Linked DNA regions of Homo sapiens: regions 1 and 3 are each linked to region 2. Evidence: fine-mapped expression QTL. A gene starts in region 2. Each other region holds a variant in brackets. All regions are shown on one strand. Distances are from middle to middle.

Evidence for each region. PIP is the estimated chance that this variant, and not a neighbour inherited with it, causes the effect. A credible set is the group of variants that fine-mapping cannot tell apart.
Region 1: its variant is the best candidate, but not a certain one, in a credible set for the expression of DCAF16 in whole blood (INTERVAL, PIP 0.81).
Region 3: its variant is the best candidate, but not a certain one, in a credible set for the expression of DCAF16 in whole blood (TOPMed, PIP 0.60).

The regions. Positions count from the first base shown.
Region 1 is chr4:17,786,518-17,793,977 of GRCh38, reverse strand. It overlaps a transcript of DCAF16 not described here. Among named protein-coding and RNA genes, the nearest start is that of FAM184B, 8.6 kb to the right of the region's middle. The variant C/G (reference allele first, on the strand shown) is at 3,352.
Region 2 is chr4:17,807,537-17,814,996 of GRCh38, reverse strand. DCAF16 (DDB1 and CUL4 associated factor 16) reads left to right here and starts at 4,240. Exons shown (of 3, transcript NM_017741.4): 1 at 4,240-4,550. It overlaps NCAPG (non-SMC condensin I complex subunit G), which reads right to left and starts at 4,018. Exons shown (of 21, transcript NM_022346.5): 1 at 3,809-4,018; 2 at 2,573-2,776; 3 at 1,852-2,080; 4 at 1-144. The coding sequence starts at 3,919. RefSeq lists enhancers at 3,547-4,059, 4,333-4,492, 4,060-4,571, 4,613-4,702, 6,322-6,471.
Region 3 is chr4:17,940,337-17,945,336 of GRCh38, reverse strand. The region is part of intron 4 of LCORL (ligand dependent nuclear receptor corepressor like); the gene reads left to right. Among named protein-coding and RNA genes, the nearest start is that of LCORL, 79 kb to the left of the region's middle. The variant C/T (reference allele first, on the strand shown) is at 2,464.

The DNA.
Region 1 (7,460 bases), 21 kb after region 2:
CATAGTCTGAGAGTGAATTTTTATTTACTTGCAAGTGATATGTATGCTGATAGGTTTTTCTCTCTGTCATCAAATCTATTGAGTAAACCATGCCAGGCCAATTTGTCCATCTCCTTTTTTCTAAGTAAGAAATCACAAATATACAGTAAATAGAGTGCACTAATCATAAGTGTACTTGATTTTTTTACATGTGTATACATTCGTATCAAGATCATATAAAAATGTATACACTCAGATCAAAGTATTAAAAATTTCAAATTCTCTTATGCCCTTTCCTAGTCTATACATCTCGCAGAAATAACTCTTCTTTTCTAAAGATCTGTTAGTTTTGGTTGTTCTCAGATTTCATGTGAATGGAATCATACAGTATATATTGTTTTATGCCTGGCTTCTTTCAGCAATGTACTTCTTCTTTTTTTTATTGTTATAGACTATTTGATTATATGAATATATCATAATTCATTTATCCTTTTACCTGTTGACATTTATTTCCAATTTTTTGTTATTATGAATAAAGCTATAATAAACATTCTGTGTGTATTGTTTTGGTTTGGTTTTTTGTGGATATGTGTATTCATTCCTTTGGGTATATACCTAGGCACCAAATTGCTATATCAGAGTAGTTGTGTATTTATTTTTAATAAAACTGCCAAACACTTTTTTTTTATGTAAGTTTTAGGGTACATGTGCACAATGTGCACGTTTGTTACATATGTATACATGTGCCATGTTGGTGTGCTGCACCCATTAACTCGTCATTTAACATTAGGTATATCTCCTAATGCTGTCCCTCCTGCCTCCCCCCACCCCACAACAGGCCCCGGTGTGTGATGTTCCCCTTCCTGTGTCCATGTGTTCTCATTGTTCAATTCCCACCTATAAGTGAGAATATGCAGTGTTTGGTTTTTTGTCCTTGCGATAGTTTGCTGAGAATGATGGTTTCTAGCTTCATTTATGTCCCTACAAAGGACACGAACTCATCATTTTTTATGGCTGCATAGTATTCCATGGTGTATATGTGCCACATTTTCTTAATCCAGTCTATCATTGTTGGACACTTGGGTTGGTTCCAAGTCTTTGCTATTGTGAATAGTGCCTCAATAAACATACATGTGCATGTGTCTTTATAGCAGCATGATTTATAATCCTTTGGGTATATACCCAGTAATGGGATGGCTGGGTCAAATGATATTTCTAGTTCTAGATCCCTGAGGAATCGCCACACTGACTTCCACAATGGTTGAACTAGTTTACAGTCCCACCAACAGTGTAAAAGTGTTCCTATTTCTCCACATCCTCTCCAGCACCTGTTGTTTCCTGACTTTTTAATGATCGCCATTGTAACTGGTGTGAGATGGTATCTCATTGTGGTTTTGATTTGCATTTCTCTGATGGCCAGTGATGATGAGCATTTTTTTCATGTGTCTTTTGGCTGCATAAATGTCTTCTTTTGAGAAGTGTCTGTTCATATCCTTCACCCACTTGTTGATGGGGTTGTTTATTTTTTTCTTGTAAATTCGTTTGAGTTCTTTGTAGATTCTGGATATTAGGCCTTTGTCAGATGGGTAGATTGCAAAATTTTTCTCCCATTCTGTAGGTTGCCTGTTCACTCTGATGGTAGTTTCTTTTGCTGTGCAGAAGCTCTTTAGTTTAATTAGATCCCATTTGTCAATGCCAAACACTTTTTAATGTGACTGTATCATTTTACACTCTCACCAACAATGTATGGAAGTTCCAGTTGCTCCATATCTTTACAAACACTTGTGATTGTCAGTCCTTTTAATTTTACTCATTCTGGTGGTTGTTTAATGGTATCCCAGTGTGACTTTAATTTACTTTGATTTAATTTAATTTTGATTTAATTTAATTTAATTTTCTTTGATCAGTGTTGTTAAACACCTTTTTATATGCTTATGAGACATTCAGATACCTCTTTGCAAGTACTTGTCTAGGGTTTTGGCCACTTGTAAAATAGATTATCTTGTTCTTATTAATTTGTAGTTCTGTTTTTTTTATTTTTTAGAAATGGGCTCACACTGTTGCCCAGGCTTGTCTCGAAATCCTGACCTCAGACAATCTTACCCTCTCAACCTCCCAAAATCCCCCAGCTGAAATTACAGGCATGAGCCACCATGCCCAGCCTATAGGAGTTTTTATATACACTGTATACAAGTTGTTTATTTATATAATGAATTTCTTATGTCATTCTATGCCTTGCCTATTTTCTTTTTTTTAAGACAGAGTCTTACTCTGATGCCCAAGCAGGAGTGCAGTGGCGGGATCTCAGCTCACTGCAACCTCTGCCTTCCAGGCTCAAGCAATTCTTGTGCCTCAGCCTCCCAAGTAACTGGGATTACAGGTGTGTGCCACCACACCCAGCTAATTTTTGTAGGTTTTTGTTGTTGTTGTTGTTAGTAGAGACAGAGTTTCTCCATGTTGGCCAGGCTGGTCTCGAACTCTGACCTCAAGTGATCTGCCCGCCTTGGCCTCCCAAAGTGCTGGAATTACAGGTGTGAGCCACCACACCCAGCCATTGTTTGTTTTCTTAATGGTATATTTTGATGAGTAGAAGTTTTCAAGTTTGATGAAATCTAATTTATCAGATTTCTTTTTGTATTATGGTTAGTGCTTTAACAAATCTTTGTTAACTTGAATATTATGAAAATAGTCTTCTATTTTTTTAGAAGATTTATAGTTTTAGCTTTCACATTTAAGATACAATTTCAAATTTTATTACTGAGAAGAGAATATTTGTGGGTATCTCATTTTTCTCTAATACTTTCTCCTTTTCTTCACATTCTTTATCCAAATTCAAGGGGATTTATCATATATGATATTTATGTCTTTGGAGTTTTTTTTGTTTTTTTTGTTTTCATGAAATTTGGGTAGGAAAGTTGACATACTGTTTTTAAGTTATCCCCAAAAGACTGAAGAATTCCCAAATTGTACTTCTTCCTAAAAACTAATTATCTAAGTGGCATAAATTAACTAAAAATCAAACAGTTCTTAACACTTATTTTGTTTAAAATTTTGAATTTTAGCACACCAATTCTGCATTAGAATGAATGAAAAATAACCAGATCTGTATTATTCTACCATATATTATTATTTAAATTTTTTTTACATTTTTGAGTTATTCTTTTAGACATTATCTAGTCTTACTATTTTAAATATTATCCTTCTACTTCCCTGTTATTCAACTACCAGAAAGTTCTCAGTATCAGTTTCTGTACAAAACATTGACACTTTCTACAATTATTATTTGTAGCAGTTTACTTTTGTAGTACATACACATTAATGTTTTTGCTTATTAATAGAAGCACATTCAGTCACTCAGCAAATATTTATTGA[C/G]CACCTACACAGTGCCAAGTGCTAAGAATTTAGCAATAAACAAAACAGACAAAAATTCCTGCCTTCATAAAGCTTACATTGCAGTGAGATTTTTTTTTTCACTTCAGTTTATAACTGGAATGTTTTTGTTTACCTTTATTTTAAAATGAACGTTCAGACCAGGTGTGGTGGCTCATGCCTAAAATCCCAGCATTTTGGGAGGCCAAGGTGAGAGGATCGCTTGAGTTCAGAAGTGTGAGACCAGCCTGGGCAACATAGGGAGACCTCATCTCTACCAAAAATTTTTTTAAATTAGCCAGGTATGGTGGTGGCATGCACCTGTGGTCCCAGCTACTCAGGAGGCAGAGGTGGAAGGATCACTTGAGTCCACACCACTATACTCCAGCCTGGGTGACAGAGTAAGAGACCTTGTTTAAAAAAACAAAACAAAACAAAACAAAAACAGATAATCTGCAATAAGTCTGAATTATTTGCACTAGTTAATTTTATGTCCATTACAAATGAGTGCTCCCCGAGGTCAGGAGATCAAGACCATCCTGGCCAACATAGTGAAACCCCTTCTCTACTAAAAATACAAAAAAATTAGCCAAGCATAGCAGCACACACCTGTAATCCCAGCTACTCAGGTGGCTGAAGCAGGAGAATCGCTTGAACCCAGAAGGCGGAGGCTGCAGTGAGCCAAGATCGTGCCACTGCACTCCAGCCTGGCGACAGAGTGAGACTCCGCCTCAAAAAACAAAAGGTGTGCTCCCTTTTCATAGTGTACAGTTATGAAAAATTGCTAGCCAGTCAAAAAGTACATTTCCCTGATCCCCTTATATCTAGATAGTGCATATCAGTTTTTGCCGATGGAGTGACAACAGAATTGGTGTGTTACTTCAAGGCCAAGGTGTTTTAGAAGTGAATATACCTTCTCTGTGTTCTTTTTTGCATTTTGCTGGCTGGATGCAGATGACTGTCAGGCTCTAGGGGATAGTGGACCCGCAAGATAGAAGGAGCTGATCCTTGATTCACTTTGGACAGGAAAGAGGTCCAAAGACCAGTAACTCAGTCACTTTAATGTGACCAAAAAAACCATGTCAAGCTACTTGTGTAGTTTAGCAATTAGCATCACCTTAATAATATGCTTGCTTCGTTAATACTGCAGATGCTGTTAATCTGACCAGATATGATGTTTGTCTGAAAACCAAACCATTATTATTGATCAGGTACAATTTCTGGAATAACAAAGACAATATTGAAGGTGGAAGTTAGCTATGTAGCCTCCCAAAGGCCAAGGTCAGTGCCTAAGAGCAGATTTTTGCTGAACATTGAGGCCAGTGCAGATTCCAGTACATCCCCATCAGGTAGTGACTTAAAAAAAAAAATAGTATGGGAGGCAGGTGTTGTATAAGAAAGTAGGAGTAATTGTGATCATTCTTTGACCATGAACCATAATGTTACTACAACTGTAGTCATATTAAGTGGTTAGTGAAATTCTAAGCAAATAAGCCTGAGGAATGTGGAGGAGATATGGTGTGGGAGAACCATGTCCTTCTGCATTCATTATGGTAGTAAGCACAAAATGGGTCAGAAAATAATATCTACATGCTCAGAATGCTCCTGTATTAATAGAACTGGTTGCCCCTGGGGGAGTGGAAACAGTGACCAGGAACAAAGGTGGGAGGGAACCTTTTCATTTTTTCACTTTTGAATATTGTACCATAAGTATATATTATGTGTTCAAAAATCATCATTTTATGATTAGCTTTGAGAATTGATTGGTCAGGGAAGATAATAACTTTACTGAATTTCACCAAAGTGCTTTTTGAAAATTGGTGGATGAGATTGCAAAACTTATAACATAACTTAGTAAGTACAGGTAATGATATTCTTCGCTTGAATCAATGAAATTTCATAGGTTTTCGGTTATAACAGCTATTAAAGTCAGTGTTGAAATAAACTGAACTTAACACTAGACCTCTGAACTTAAAACTAGACCTCTGAATCACAGTATCTCAAAATGATAAATTCAATTATGTTGCTTTATTTTAAATGTTGCAATACTGTGTCATAATGTGTTATTAGTATACAATATTTCTAACATTTCATGAAATAACTCACTGCTACGGGAGCTCAAAGACAGCACCTCTGACTGGAGTAGTCAGTCCAGGGCTACCTCATGGGTGTGATTTGAACTGAGAATTGAAGGATTTTGGGATGTGGATAGCAGAGAGGACAAGAAGAACATCACAAAGCAATTAGAGGGAACTAGCAAGGGTTGGTTGGGCCATGAAGCAATTCTCTACATGGTGTCTGGTAGCATCTACAACAGCATCACTGAAGAGATTGTTTTAAATGCCTGACCCCAGACCGATGAATCAAAATTTCTGAGATGGGGAAGCAGAAATACTCATTTTTATCAAACTCCTTGTTTAGTAAATATAAACAAATTTTATGTTTACTAATATTTGAGAATTTCTAACCCCAGGTAAATACTCTGGATAATACTTGTCTGCAAAGACACTGTGGAGGACAACCACCACCAAAAACAGCAGGAGTCAATTCCAAAAAGAGAAATTGAGAAACAACTACAATGCAATATTCAACCATAGATCAGACATATTACCGATACTTTAGTCCATTAAAAAATTTGAGTTGCCACTTAGTACATAGCTCAAATGATCATATCAATATTTAACACAATCTGACTATGACTTTGCTATAAAACATTTTATTCCAAAATGTCATTCTCCATGGTGTCATGTCAATATACTGAAATCTCAGTACAAACGTCACCATTGTGTAAAAGAGGTTTTCATTTTACTCCCTGGGAGATGAGATGGAAGATTTGATACCATGCTACGTTTAATGAAACCCTGAATACTAGTTAATGTGTGTTAGGATTACAGTTAAAAAAAAAAAAACATGATGCTAATTTACACGTGTGTTCTTACATTCACTCAAAAAAGGGAAGATGTTTGACAGAAAACATCAGCTTTTAAAAATAAAATATGGTATAGGTGCTATACGGAAATGCAGAGCTACGAGAACATATCTTAAGGACATGCAGACTGATCTGCAACTACAGAGACAGCCTTCCTATGGAACTGACATTCAGGCTGAGATCTGAAAGATGAGTAGGAATGAGTCAGGCATAGTAGGGGAAAAAGCCTTCTAGATACTCAAGAATGTGAACTTGGTTTTAGATGAGTAATATATTAGGAGTAATAACAATAATCGAGTTACCTGTGCCACTTAACTGATTAGGAAAGAAAAATACTAATTAAAAGCTTTAGCCTAAGTAAATCTACCGAAGTAAATTTTTACCAAAGAAATCACCTAAGGCAACACTTAGATTATCAGCGTGGTAAAGATGAATTATTTAATACCTGTTGGGACAACCATTTAGCCATCTGGAAAAGCATAAGTCTGGAGTCTAACCTCATTCCATATATCAGCATAAATCCCAGGTAGATAAACCATATTTTAAATGAAGTCATGAAAGTACTAGGATAAACTATGGATTCCCTTTTCCTCATAATCTGGGGTAGAAAAGGCTTTTCTAAGCATGAGGAAAAAGCCAAAAAATGTGAGGGAAAAGATCAACAGATTTTCCTACATAAAAATTCAAAATGTTTATAGAGCATGAGAAAGCTAGAAAAAAAATCCGCTAACTGCGGGAAATGTTTGCAATATATATGATAGGCAAAGTGCTAAAAGCCCCTATTAAGGAAGAGCTCTTTGTAAGCAGCAAGAAAGCCAGGCAAAAACAATGACTAATCAAGTTGTGGGAAGGTATTCAGTTCTACCAGCAAACAAGTGGTGCGGGGGAATATTTCTGTGGGAACACTTGCACATCTGTGCAAAAACCCACTTACAACAATGTCATGTAGGCAGTTCCCTTGATGCAATAGTAACCTTAAAATACACGATTAGGCAGGCTGTCCCAGGTGTCATGGACAGGAAACCTCACACCGCAAATTAAGAGGCTCAAATCACATGGTTTATCGCTTTTAAACAAAATATAGTTGGAAAGATATAGTGACGTTTAACACATTTAGGATAGGGTCCAAGAGAGGTGGGAGGAAAAATTACCTGAATTTCATGTTACGCAGTGTTGTGGCGTC
Region 2 (7,460 bases):
GATAAGCCAGCTTTCTGACAGCCTCTTTCACATCCTTGGTGCGCCCTACAATTTTTGGCAAAGTCTTTGCTGATGGTGCAATACATGATAACACTGCCCGTCTAACTTCTGGATTTGAATCATTTTCAATCAAAGTAGCATATGCTAAAAATAAAGCAATACATTTTAGTACTGATGAAATTATTTATTTAACTACAGTCATAAAATAACACACATTTTGATATTTTAAAATGCCTTTAATGTGATAAAGATAGGCTGGGCATGATGGCTACTGCCTATAACCAGCACTTTGGGAGGCCAAGGTAGGTGGAGAGCTTGAAGCCAAGAGTTCAAGACCAGCCTGAGCAATATAGAAAGACCCCTGTCTCTACAAAATAATTTTAAAATAAAAAATTAGCTAGGCATGGTAGTGGCGCTTCCAGTTACTTAGGAGGCTGAGGTGGAAGGATCACTTAAGCCCAGGAGTTTGAGGCCACACCTCTGCAATCCAGCCCGAGTGAGAACCCATCTGTAATAGAAAGTAATGTCATTTTTTTAGTCTCACATATTTTAGTTGAAGTTTTTTTCCCACCAACTTCCTTCTTTTTCTTTTTTTTGGAGACAAGGTCTCACTATGTTGCCCAGGTTGGAGCCAAAGTGCTGAGATTACAGGCCTGAGTCACTGCTGCGCAGGCCACCAACTTCCCTTCTAAAGACACAAGGGGGAATTAGTCAACGGACTGGCTCTTAGGCCAAAAGTGAAAACAAATAGCCCTAAAAGTCACAGAAAATTCATCATTAAGATTATGTCTGTGCTACTCCTCAATATTTAAGAGAAAGCTTACTATAGCAGACAGTTTATTTTAAACTGATATGGCTTTATAAGGGCCCATTATTTTGGTTTTTAATGAGACCTAAAAGGAAATATTTTTTGGTTTTATTCATTGAAACAAACCCATTTCTTATATTTAAATATATTTATCTGTACTTCTCACATCTTTCCTACCTCAATTATTAAGTACAGGTTGACTATCAAATACCTATGTTTTACACAATATTATTATGGGTATCTTTTAACACCAAAAAAAATACCAACTACTATAGTGATAAATATACCAGTGATTATAAAACTGGTAATAGGGACAAAAAGGACAGAAGAGTGCCTAAAACATACCTAGGCATATATGGAAAAATGAAATACAACTACCTTTATGACCCCATAGGTAAGAAAAAGTTCCTTAAAAAAGAGATTAAAAAATACGAATCATAATGGCAGAGATTTATATTTTTGACATAAGAATTTCTGTTCAAAAAAAAGATACCCCAAAGGGAGTGAAACAATGATACCCCAATGAGCCACCTAAAACAGGAAGAGATCTACAATTCATATAACCCAAGGATTTCTTTTCAAAATATATAAAGAATGCAAATGAATTTTTTAAAATAGTATTTTAAATTAAAAACCCAATGAAAAAATGGGCAAAACACAGTAACAGGTATTATATAGAAATATAATTGGCTGCTAAATATATACATACAGCATGATTTACACAAAATGACAGGAAAACATTAAGATAGACATATGTGATTTATGCAAAAAAATTTTTTTTAATTTAAGCAAGAGACTAATTAACCCCAAACTGAGGATTTAATAGTTACTTCTGAGGGACAGGGATGCAACTGGGATAGGATGCAAGTACTGACTTTTTTTTTTAAGCTGGGTGGTTGCTACTTAGGTTTTTTTTGTTTAATCGGAATCATATATTAATTACCTATACTCTTCAAATGTATAGACCATAATAAAAAATTTCAAATACTGAGAATTTAACAAAATCAACAAATCTGAAAAAAGATTTAGGAAACTACACACACCATTAACCACTGGGCATTCATCATCCTTGGGATCCTGAAGTCGTGAAAGCGCCAGAACTGCCTGTATTCTCACATTTGGAATCTTATCTTTCAATCTAATAAGCATGGCTTTATTAATTTTATCAAACACATCATCATCAATCTGAGCATTTTCTGGCATACTTCCCAAAAGCTTGTTTATGAGCAGGCACACTCTAAATCTCACTGCATTGCTGTTTGCTTCATGAGACTAAAACAGAAACAAATCAAAATTTATTCATAGTCACATACCACTCCCAAATAATCAATATTATCTGAACTCTATACATTCGGAATGCAAGAAGTTACAACAACAATTCATTTCCTGAAGAGAACCTATAATGCTACCTTGGTCCATATGTATAGCAAATATATATATTTTATACAGTCTCAAAATGAACAGTCTGAAAGAAGTCTTTGCTAAGTTACATAGTCCTCTTTGTAGAGGCTTCTAAAATACAGAACTCATTTAAAATAAACAAAGGAGAACTGGTTTAAAGAGGTCATTAAAAATTTAATGCTGGAGTTAAAGTCCACTTTTTAATCATAATGATAATTCTAATATTTCCTATGAAAGGTAGACTCATTCAGGTTTTTTCAATCACTAGATATTTCATTGTCAAAAACATACAAACTCCCACGACTCTTTTAAAGTGGCAAAATTTTCTAAAATCCCTCCCCAAAGCTATCATTTTCATAGTACCTTTAAGAGAAAAGTAAACAAATAATTTAAAAGGCCACCATCTTCCTCTTCCTCATCATCTTCCATATCTGATTGGTGAAATGAGGTAACAAACTTTGCTGCAAATTCTATTACCCTCTCCACAGCTGGTTCACGTTTATAGACCACCATAACATATTTAAGGTAATGAATGAACTCCTCATGAAAAACTGTCTTATCATCCATCTGAAAGACAAAAGAAACCCTTCATAAACTGCACCGATAAAAATCCTTTATTCCCAACATCACCCTAAGACTGATGAAAGCACTAGCCATAATAATGCAGACAAATTAAAATATTTATTTAGTAAACTCTTAATTATCCAAACCAGCCAAAGGGCAATCAATTTGCATGAATTTCTCTCCAGGCTATAATGGGAGTACACAAGCTTGACTTTTGACAGTGAAAAGATTCCTTTGATATATTTTTTTCAATATCTTTGATTCTCAATAAGCCTTTAGTACCAGTACGTTACAAATACGCTTCTTCAACAACCCAAAATCAATACTGGCTTTTATATTTCTCATATTCAGGCCTTCCTATCACCAGCAGTTTCTTTATGAGATAACTTGCACATCCTATCTCATATCCTCAAAGCCCTGTGATGTTTACTCACAATTTTTCTTGGACCTCAAGATAATTCATCTTCCCCAAATTAATTGTTCTATTCTTCTCAAGGTTCCACTCAAAACAAACAAATAGTATGTACATAAATAAGAATGGCCAGGCCCTAAAAATAATTTGGTATTTGGTGATTGGATTCAACGTAACCGTAGGACAAGGGTAGAATCATTTGATGTTCGGCGGGGAGCGATGACCCCAGGGGCAACGACCACTGAACCCCCGCATTCAGGATCCACTCTGCGGTTCAATATTTGATGTCTGATCGCCTCGGTGGTCGTAAATGTTTCTCTCCACGTTCACGATCGGACTAAGGAATAACGGTCCACGCCGCCCAGAAGCTGGGGGTGTCGGCTCAGAAAAGCCAAGGCGGGGCCCGTGTGAACGACGCCCAGGCTTCGGAGGCTTTCTGGCCTGGGCCCAGGCGACCTCGGGTAAGTCCCTGACTTCTCCGAACCTCAGATCCCTATGAAGTGAGTCGCGAAGGTGAACAAGGCTGGAGTCACGGTGCGCCGAGCCCGAGGGCCACGGAGGGCCCCTGAGGGAGGGTGGGCCGGGGCGGGCGAGAGGCGGCGGCCGGGGCCGGGAGCGCTTACCGTGCGGTAGGTGCGGCTCAGCGCCACCACCAGCTTCGCCTGGTTCTGGTGCGGCTGCTGCGCCAGCCGAAAGGCCTCCTTAATCGACAGCAGCCTCCTTTCCGCTCCCATGGCTCTGGAACCCTGCCGGGACGAGTCCTGCCCGCGCTCGGCTACAGCCTGCCAGCCCGCCAACCCAGAGGCAGCGCTCTCCGAGTAGTCTTCTATGACAGCCCCAGGGAGTATTTACCGCTCGAACGTTCAAATAATTCCCGCGAGAGGGGGAAATCCCGCGAGACTGCCGTAAGCGCTTTGGGAGAAGAGAGCGGGAAGCGATGGGTCCACCCACCTCGCACCCCGCGCTTTGGGCGCATGCGTCTAGGTTCAACCTTGTCCAGCCGTTTTCACGGAGGGAAGTGGCGTTTCTAAGGGGGAGGGGCCTTGACTCGGCCGGAAGTAGCGTCGGCGCGGGAGCTGAGCGGAGTGGCCTTGCCACCGGAGGGGAAGGGCTGCTGGCGTTAGGCCTGGCTGGGTCGTGCGGCTGAGCGTGAGGCTAGAAAGAAAAAGCGATCCTCCAAGAGTGAGAACGGGAGATCTGCCGAGGATAACAACCTCCCTTGTGGCCGAAGGGCGGGGGATCCCCACACGAGGGCTCCGCTTCGAGAGACGGCGACAAAGGAAAGTTCGTAGCGCGTTCCGGAGGCCCGGCCACCTCTGAGAAGGGAGACGACGCTGCTGGGTCCGCTGAGCGGGGCGACCCGAGGTTAGTGGAGACGGATGCTGTCTTTTGAAGGCCTTAGTCCCTGCCCTGGTGAAGCCGACTGCGAGGTTCCACAGGGCGTGCAGGCAGTCCGGGGATCGTTGCGAAGGGGGGTGCGGGCTAACTTAGCTGCTGCCGTTTCTAGATGTGCAGCTGTGTAGGCCCTGTTTACAAGTGTGCATAAGGACAGTGTATTAAGGGAGAACTCAAGAGAATGGAAAGGTCTTTCGGGTAGTGGTTAAAATAAAGAAGAGTAGGAACTAGGTTTTTAAATTTTAAATGAAATTATATCAGACAGAACTTCTGTTGGATCTCAGGATGCACCATCCAAAAATAGGACTGTAGGAGACCAAAATATGCCACCCTACAATATACTTCTAGAGTATATTTTGAGCTGGTATTCTGATAAAATGCAGACACAGGAGTCGCTCTGAAAATCTGTCCTGTTGTAAAAGAAATTGACATCTACAGAGGAAATATACATCAGTAAAGGATCTGTATCAGAAAGAGGGCAGCTCTGCGATAATTTTTGTTACCTGGGAGATCTTATCTGCATACCAAGACAACTTTTATTCACCGTATATTTCCTCCCCTCACCTTTCCACAACTTTGTGGCCACCATCCCCCAGAAAGCCGCAAGCCCCCATTTCTTGAGTAGCGTAGGATGCTGTATAATATTCAATCATCTGACCATGGTGGGACTCCTCTGCGTATGTAATTAAGTACGGGTTTTTTTTCTTGTTAATGTCTATGTCAGGTTAATTTGTAACCCAGCCAAAGAACCTAGGAGGATGGAGGGAAGCCGTTTTTCCCTCTCCTACACCTCAGTAACCTACTGCCAGCTGAAGAAATAGAACATTACTAAAGCCACCTGTACATCTTTCTCCTTTTGAATTACCTGCCCTCCGAAGAAGTAATGGATTTTCTGAATTTACTGTTAACTTTTACCATGCAGCTTTCTATATCTTAATGACATATTTTAATATATTAATGACATGAATAAATCCCTGAATGAGGATATTGTACTATTTTGCATGTTTTAACCGTTAAATGAATAATTATATGTGCATCTGGCTTTTTTCAATCAATATTGCTGTGGTTCATATTGATATGTTCATAATAGTAACTTGCACTTAATTAACCTTTATTATGTGCCAGACACCATGCTAAGCACTTTACTTCGTTTACTGCTCACAAACCCTGTAGGATAACTTTGATCTTCTTTTAAGATGAGGAAACTACGGCACAGACAGGTTGCTATAGTACTCCATTGTATTAATATGCCATACCTTATCCATTCTCCTGCTTAATTCCTCAAACTTTGTAGATATTCAGCTGCTAGTTAAGAATGTGGTAACATTTGTGTTGCCCATAATTTTGCTTTGTGACGTTTCTAATATATATTTTTTTATTTTTATTTTGAGACAGAGTCTTGCTCTGTCGCCCAGGCTGGAGTGCAATGGCGCGATCTCGGCTCACTGCAACCTCTGCCTCCCGGGTTGAAGCGATTCTCCCGCCTCAGTCTCCCAAGTAGCTGGGTTACAGGCATGCACCACCACACCTGGCTAATCTTTTGTATTCTTAATAGAGACGGGGTTTCGCCATGTTGGCCAGGCTGGTCTCGAACTCCTGACCTCAGGTGATCCACCCGCCTTTGCCTCCCAAACTGTTGGGATTACAGGCGTGAGCCACCGCGCCCGGCTAGTATTTCTTTACTATATTCTATTTGGCTGTCTCACCAACAGAGACATCACACCATTTTGTCAGTTACAGAAGAATGAGACATCTGGCCGCCAGAGGTCAGCCTAACTATATTTCGGTTAGTTTTTTTTTTTGTTTTGTTTTGTTTTAATGGTTAAAGCCATGGGGGTATTGGTTCAGTATTTTTTGATATTATAATCTGAAAATATTTTTTCAAAGGTGCTAGATTAAATTTAAACAACATAGTATACTGCCTTAAAGCTTACATTTTTCCTGACTTTTGTACTGTGAAACAGAACAAAAACAATTATGGGAAAGTAAGAGCCTTTTTAAAAATTTTCTGAGTAACATAATAACTGAAGTATAGCCAATTAGTAATCTCACAGGTGCAATCTGGTTGAAGTGAAAATAGTAAAAATATTAGAGGACAGCACAATTAAAAGCCAACAGCTTCTCCTGTCTCAGTTAATAAAGACTTACGGTCCACGACAAAGAATGAATACTCTTTTTCAGATTGAACAAGGTAATAGTACTATAATCTAAACTTAGAAGTATTACATTGTTTCTTCTTAAAGTTATAAGCAGTTTCCTTTATATTGCTGTAGTAGCATCATATATGTTGATCCTGCCTTAAAAAAATTATCTCATTTGTCTTTGTCTAACATTACCAAATCACCAAGATATAACTTGGAACTGTTCTCTCCCTGGAGTAAAATAGAACATGCTTGTGGTAGTTACTTACTGCAGGCCTTTGCCATTCTCTGACTCTTTTATTTACTGAGCCACTCATATATGCCAGACACTGTGCTAGGAGTGTGTGAAAGCCAGAGAAATACTCATTAGAGGAAAATTGCTGACCTGAAGCCATACCATATGACCTTATTAGCACAACTCAGTGTATTCGATAATGAAAATGTTCACTGACTTTGATTTTGGAAATCCCCCCTACAGAGTAGCATAAACGAGACATTGATATTGTCTCTTTTCTCATTTAAAGCTATGCCTTTAAAGGCCACCCATGTTGCTGTATATACTTGGAATGTGTTTCCACATTTTACCAGTCCGCTTCTCCAGCGATAGGAACCTAGAATGCTTCTAATTCCTGTCATCACAGATGTAGCTTCAGGGTATATCTTCATACATGTTGTTCATACGGGAATTTCTTTGCTATCTATGCCCAAAAGTAGGATTGCTAGATCATGAGATGTGCAA
Region 3 (5,000 bases), 130 kb before region 2:
GTGTCATGAGTGATTCTGATATTTTTTGTTTGTATTCTCACATAATTTAAAAGATTATCATCTTTTAAATGTAATTTTTATAATAATAGTACTCTGTAAAACATGCTCTAATAATACATGAGTTTTCCCATGTACCTCATTTAATAATGTGATGTAGTTAACTGCTGTCAAGAATTACCCTTATCTCTAAAGTACTTTGGAACCTCAGCGTCTTATTCTTTCTCTGTGTTTCTTAATTTGCTAAGATATAAGGAATCTATAATTCTTGCAGAGGGTGTGATTAAATACTGTACCTGGGAAGTGTGATAAATTAGTTTTGTATATTATTTCACCATTTTTATTTTACATATAATTATGAACTGTCTGCTGCAGTTTACTGTCTGCTATTGGCTAGTTGTATATTATATCCACAGCCTGCTCATACTGTTTTTGTAAAGTTTATCTGTAGACTTTCCAGCCTGTAGAACTGTGAGAAACAAATTTCTGTTGTTTATAAACTATCCAGTCTAAAGTATTTTATTATTGCAACCCAAATAGACTAAGACAAGTGCTCTGTAAAATAGTATGTGCGTATAGGTAGGGGTTATTATCTAAGATGTCCGCTGAAGTGCAGGACTTCTATTTATATATATCCTTCATAAAATAAGAATTCTCCAATAAAAGGAACCAAAGCCCCTTGGAGAAGTGGTTGTTTGCATGGCTGGGGCTAGGAAAATAAAGATGAGCTTGGAGCATTTTGTGTTGCCAGAAAGTAAGGAAGTGCTCAAAAAAAAGTATGGGAACACAGGAGCCATCCTGAAAGAGCTCCTGATGGCCAGAGTTGCAACAATTTGAGCAACAAAGTAAACAACAATAGTTATAACAATAATTTGGATTATTACCTGTAGAATAAAATTAATATCCATGTTTTAATACTGATATAAGTGAATAAATAAATGAGAAGGAAGGGGCAGTTCTTTCTTACAGAAATAAATATTCCAGTTAAAAAATGTGGAATGGGATAGTGAATAGGTACAAAGAAAAGGTAGAAGATTGAATGAGTAAGACCTAGTATTTGATAGCACAACAGGGGTCTATAGTCAATAATAATTTAATTGTACATTTTAAAGTAACTAAAATCAATGAGCCTACTTAAAAAGACTATGTATCTGCTAAAGAATGTAATAGGGAAAACTGTAGTCACAAGGGAATCAGACTTCTGCTTTAACAAGTCTAGGACATTCACAAATACAGTGGTCAGGTCCTGGCTTTAATTAGGCAAAAAACTATGGACAGTGGCATGAATAAGTATGGGTAAACTAGATTTAAGACTAAAAGAAGATACCATGCCCATATCCTCTTTTGAGGAAAACCACCTAGGGTGGGTAGCTTCATTAAGCTATGGTAGGACATGGCTTTCACTAAAACCTTAAGTAAAGTGTGAGTAACAAATGAAATTTGGAAGTATATAATGGGTCTGGCAAGTTTTCTTTTGTGATAATGGTATGGATTCTTATGATAATGTGTCTGTACCCCTTAACCTACCCCCGCCAAAAACTCCTAAAATGTTTTAAAAACCAAAGGTCCTATGATTCTGTATTCTTTATATTCCTGTGACCTGGCATATTCCTCATTCTACATGGGCTATTGAGACCATCAAATCTGTAGAATAAAAAGAAATTTCAGGAAGCCCATGTCCACTTACTTTATCCTTGATTTTGTATTTATTCTTTGCAGCGCATATCAGTGGTGAAATAGTAAGCCAAAGTGAAAGCAACATAAGCAATGTGTTAAGTCTTCATTCTTGCCAGCCTTTGAACCAGCTAACTCATAAGCCTTCCAGAAGAAAAATCATTTTTCTCTAGTAATTCCTTTCAGCGAGTGTTAGTAACTTTTGGTATAAGGTGTGAGAGAATAAAGGAATGTTTTCTCATTTTTGTTTTTCTGTGAACTACCAATTTTAAAAGATTAGTTTATTGCTCAATTATTAATGCAGTCCTTATTCCCTTTGAAGAGTGAAGAGTCATTTCATTTATGAGATACTCACTGAGTTACCTTACTGAGTTGTGGTTACCATGGTTGATCACCAAATAGTTGAGTAAGGTTTAGTGTTTAGTCTCAAGGAGGACATTGCTTGTTACAGTAGGATACGGTGGAGATACAATAGGGAGAATAATATATGAGCTCTTGATTCTCTTGTCATCTCAGGGGTGTTGAAACTGAAGACAAAATGAGCCGCCGGATCAGCAGTCCCCAACGTTTTTGGCACCAGGGACAGGTTTCGTAGAAGACAATTTTTCTCAGGCAAGGTGTTGCAGGGAGATGGTTTCGGGATAAAACTGTTACACCTCAGATCATCAGGCATTGGTTAGATTCTCATAAGGAGTATGCAACCTAGATTCCTCTCATGCACAGTTCACAATAGGGTTGGTTCTCCTATGAGTATCTAATGCTACTGCTGAACTGACAGGAGGCAAACTCAGG[C/T]GGTAATGCTCACTTGCTGGCTGCTCACCTCCTGCTATGCAGCCCAGTTCCTTACAGGCCATGGACTGGTACCAGTCTGTGGCCTAGGGGTCGGGGACGTCTCCAAGAAATATATAATCTTTATATTGTATTCTTCCATACTAGGTTGTTAACTCCTAGAGAGCAGAAAATACATAGATTTTCTCAGTATCTTTTATTACCCTGAGCAAGTATCATAGTTATATTAGAGTTTTGATAATTGATTTTTAGTAACTTATAAAAATGAAAGATGATCTCTAGTTGAAACCCAGCTCTGTGCCTCTGTAATTATCCTATTACAGTATTTTCTAGGTAAATGCTTTTCTTAATACTAATAGTAATTTGTTTGCATTTTGCTTACAGTCTTATGCTATTTGAAAATTAAAGATGATTAAAAAGCAACATTTGGGAGGGTCTTTTATGGCTCATTCAGTAGATAAAATAGAGCAATAGTATGAGTCTTGGTAGTTGATTATTAAGCCTAATTCCTCAGTTTACCTTTCTGCTTGCTTTGTAGCATTTAGATATTTTGCATGGTCTTGTCATGACCAGAGAATAATGCATTTAAATCCTATAGTAGTCCATAGTGGTCCTTACAAAACTTAACTGACTTAGAATTGACTTTTTACCCTTATTTGGGTTTCACTCTATTGTCAAAATATTTGCTTTTCTTTGGAAACAAATCTGCTTTTTAACACTTTTACTTTGTTTTACATTTGTTCATAAGAATGCCCCAGCTATAGTAGATCTAAAAGCTTATATAAAGGTTTTGACATTTCTTGAGTACCATACTGGTTAGACTGGTTATGTTCTAACAAGTCAGATATTTGTGGCACCCCTAACTATAATTCTCCACAATAGCCTCTAGACAATAACTTTAAAGCTGTGTTGAAAGTGGCTGTGATAGGAATAAGGCATTATCTAAATGACTCTGATGGTTCAGAGATTTATGATACTTAATAGCAAGTGTCATCACTGCTGAGGAGGCAAAAAAAAAAAAAAATTCTATCATGGGAAATGATTCAGCATTCCAAATAATCTCTGGTCAAATTTCCACTACAACTCAGACTATTGTGCAGAGAAATATGAACATTGGGGTAATGTATCTAGAGTAAATTGCTTGACTGCTTTCCTATAAGAAGAAAATGGTTTACCCTTCCTTTTCAATTACAATACTTAAGTGTTTTGTATATCAAGGGTAAGAGGCTAGCTGGAAGACTTGTGCCATTATTATTCATCTCTTCTGAACTTGTCTTGCATGGTGGAATATATCGTTAGCTTATATAAGAAGTGGAAGCTAGATGAAGCAGGATGGGAGTGGAATGTCTGAGAACATTGATACAGAATAATTATGGCAGTCTATGGTTATGGTGGTTATCAATGATTTTTTTTTTTTTGAGACAGAGTCTCACTCTGTTGCCCAGACTGAAATGCAATGGTGCAATCTCGGCTCACCGTAAGCTTCGCCTTCCGAGTTCACACCATTCTCCTGCCTCAGCCTCCTGAGTAGCATATAAAAATGTATAAGTGCATATATAGTATATATGCATATAGTGTATATGTGCATATATAGTGCCTCAGCCTCCCGAGTAGGTGGGACTATAGGTGCCCACCACCATGCCCAGCTCATTTTTTGTATTTTTAGTAGAAATGGGGTTTCACCGTGTTAGCCGGGATAGTCTTGATCTCCTGACCTCGTGATCTGCCCGTCTCGGCCTCCCAAAGTGCTGGCATTACAGGCGTGAGCCACAGCGCCCGGCCCTGATGGGGATGCATTTTTAAACATTTGTTTTCTTTTTCTGATAATATTCAGAAACCTCTGAATCTTTTCTACTTTATTTTGCTTGGCAGGTTGTTCTCTGACCTCTCTTTTTCTACCTCACAGTTACAAGAAGTGAAACAGTGGATATAACATTTCGTAATTGCAACTTAAAATCAGCATATACTACTTTGCTGCTGTAATTTTCATGATACTATTTATCAGATTTTTATATATCTTTAATTTTACTTTCTAGCTCAGAGATTCTTAACCTGGGATCCACATAGTTTGCCCAAAAGTTCATAGATAGGATTTCATGGGTCCATGAACTTGAATGGTTGAAAAAATTACATTTTTATTTTCATTGACCCTTGGTTGAAATGTAACATTTACTTCAACTGTAAGCATAGACAACAAACAACAGTGGTATTAGTAGTACCTGTTCCGATAATAGAAATCATAAATATTTTTATATCATATCTTTAATTATTTTTTACATTCTCAACTACTTTGAAATTATGGTAGACATTGGACTTACTACTAGATTTTATATTTTAATGCATTAAAAGAGGCATATATATTACATCTGTATTACATATATTACATAATACATATATATTACATATATTACATAATATATATTACATATATATTACTATATTATAGTAATATAAAACTATTTTAATATAGTTTGTTTCCTATATATTCATGCATTTAAAAACATGATTCAGAGAAGGAGCCCGTGGGCTTAACCACACTG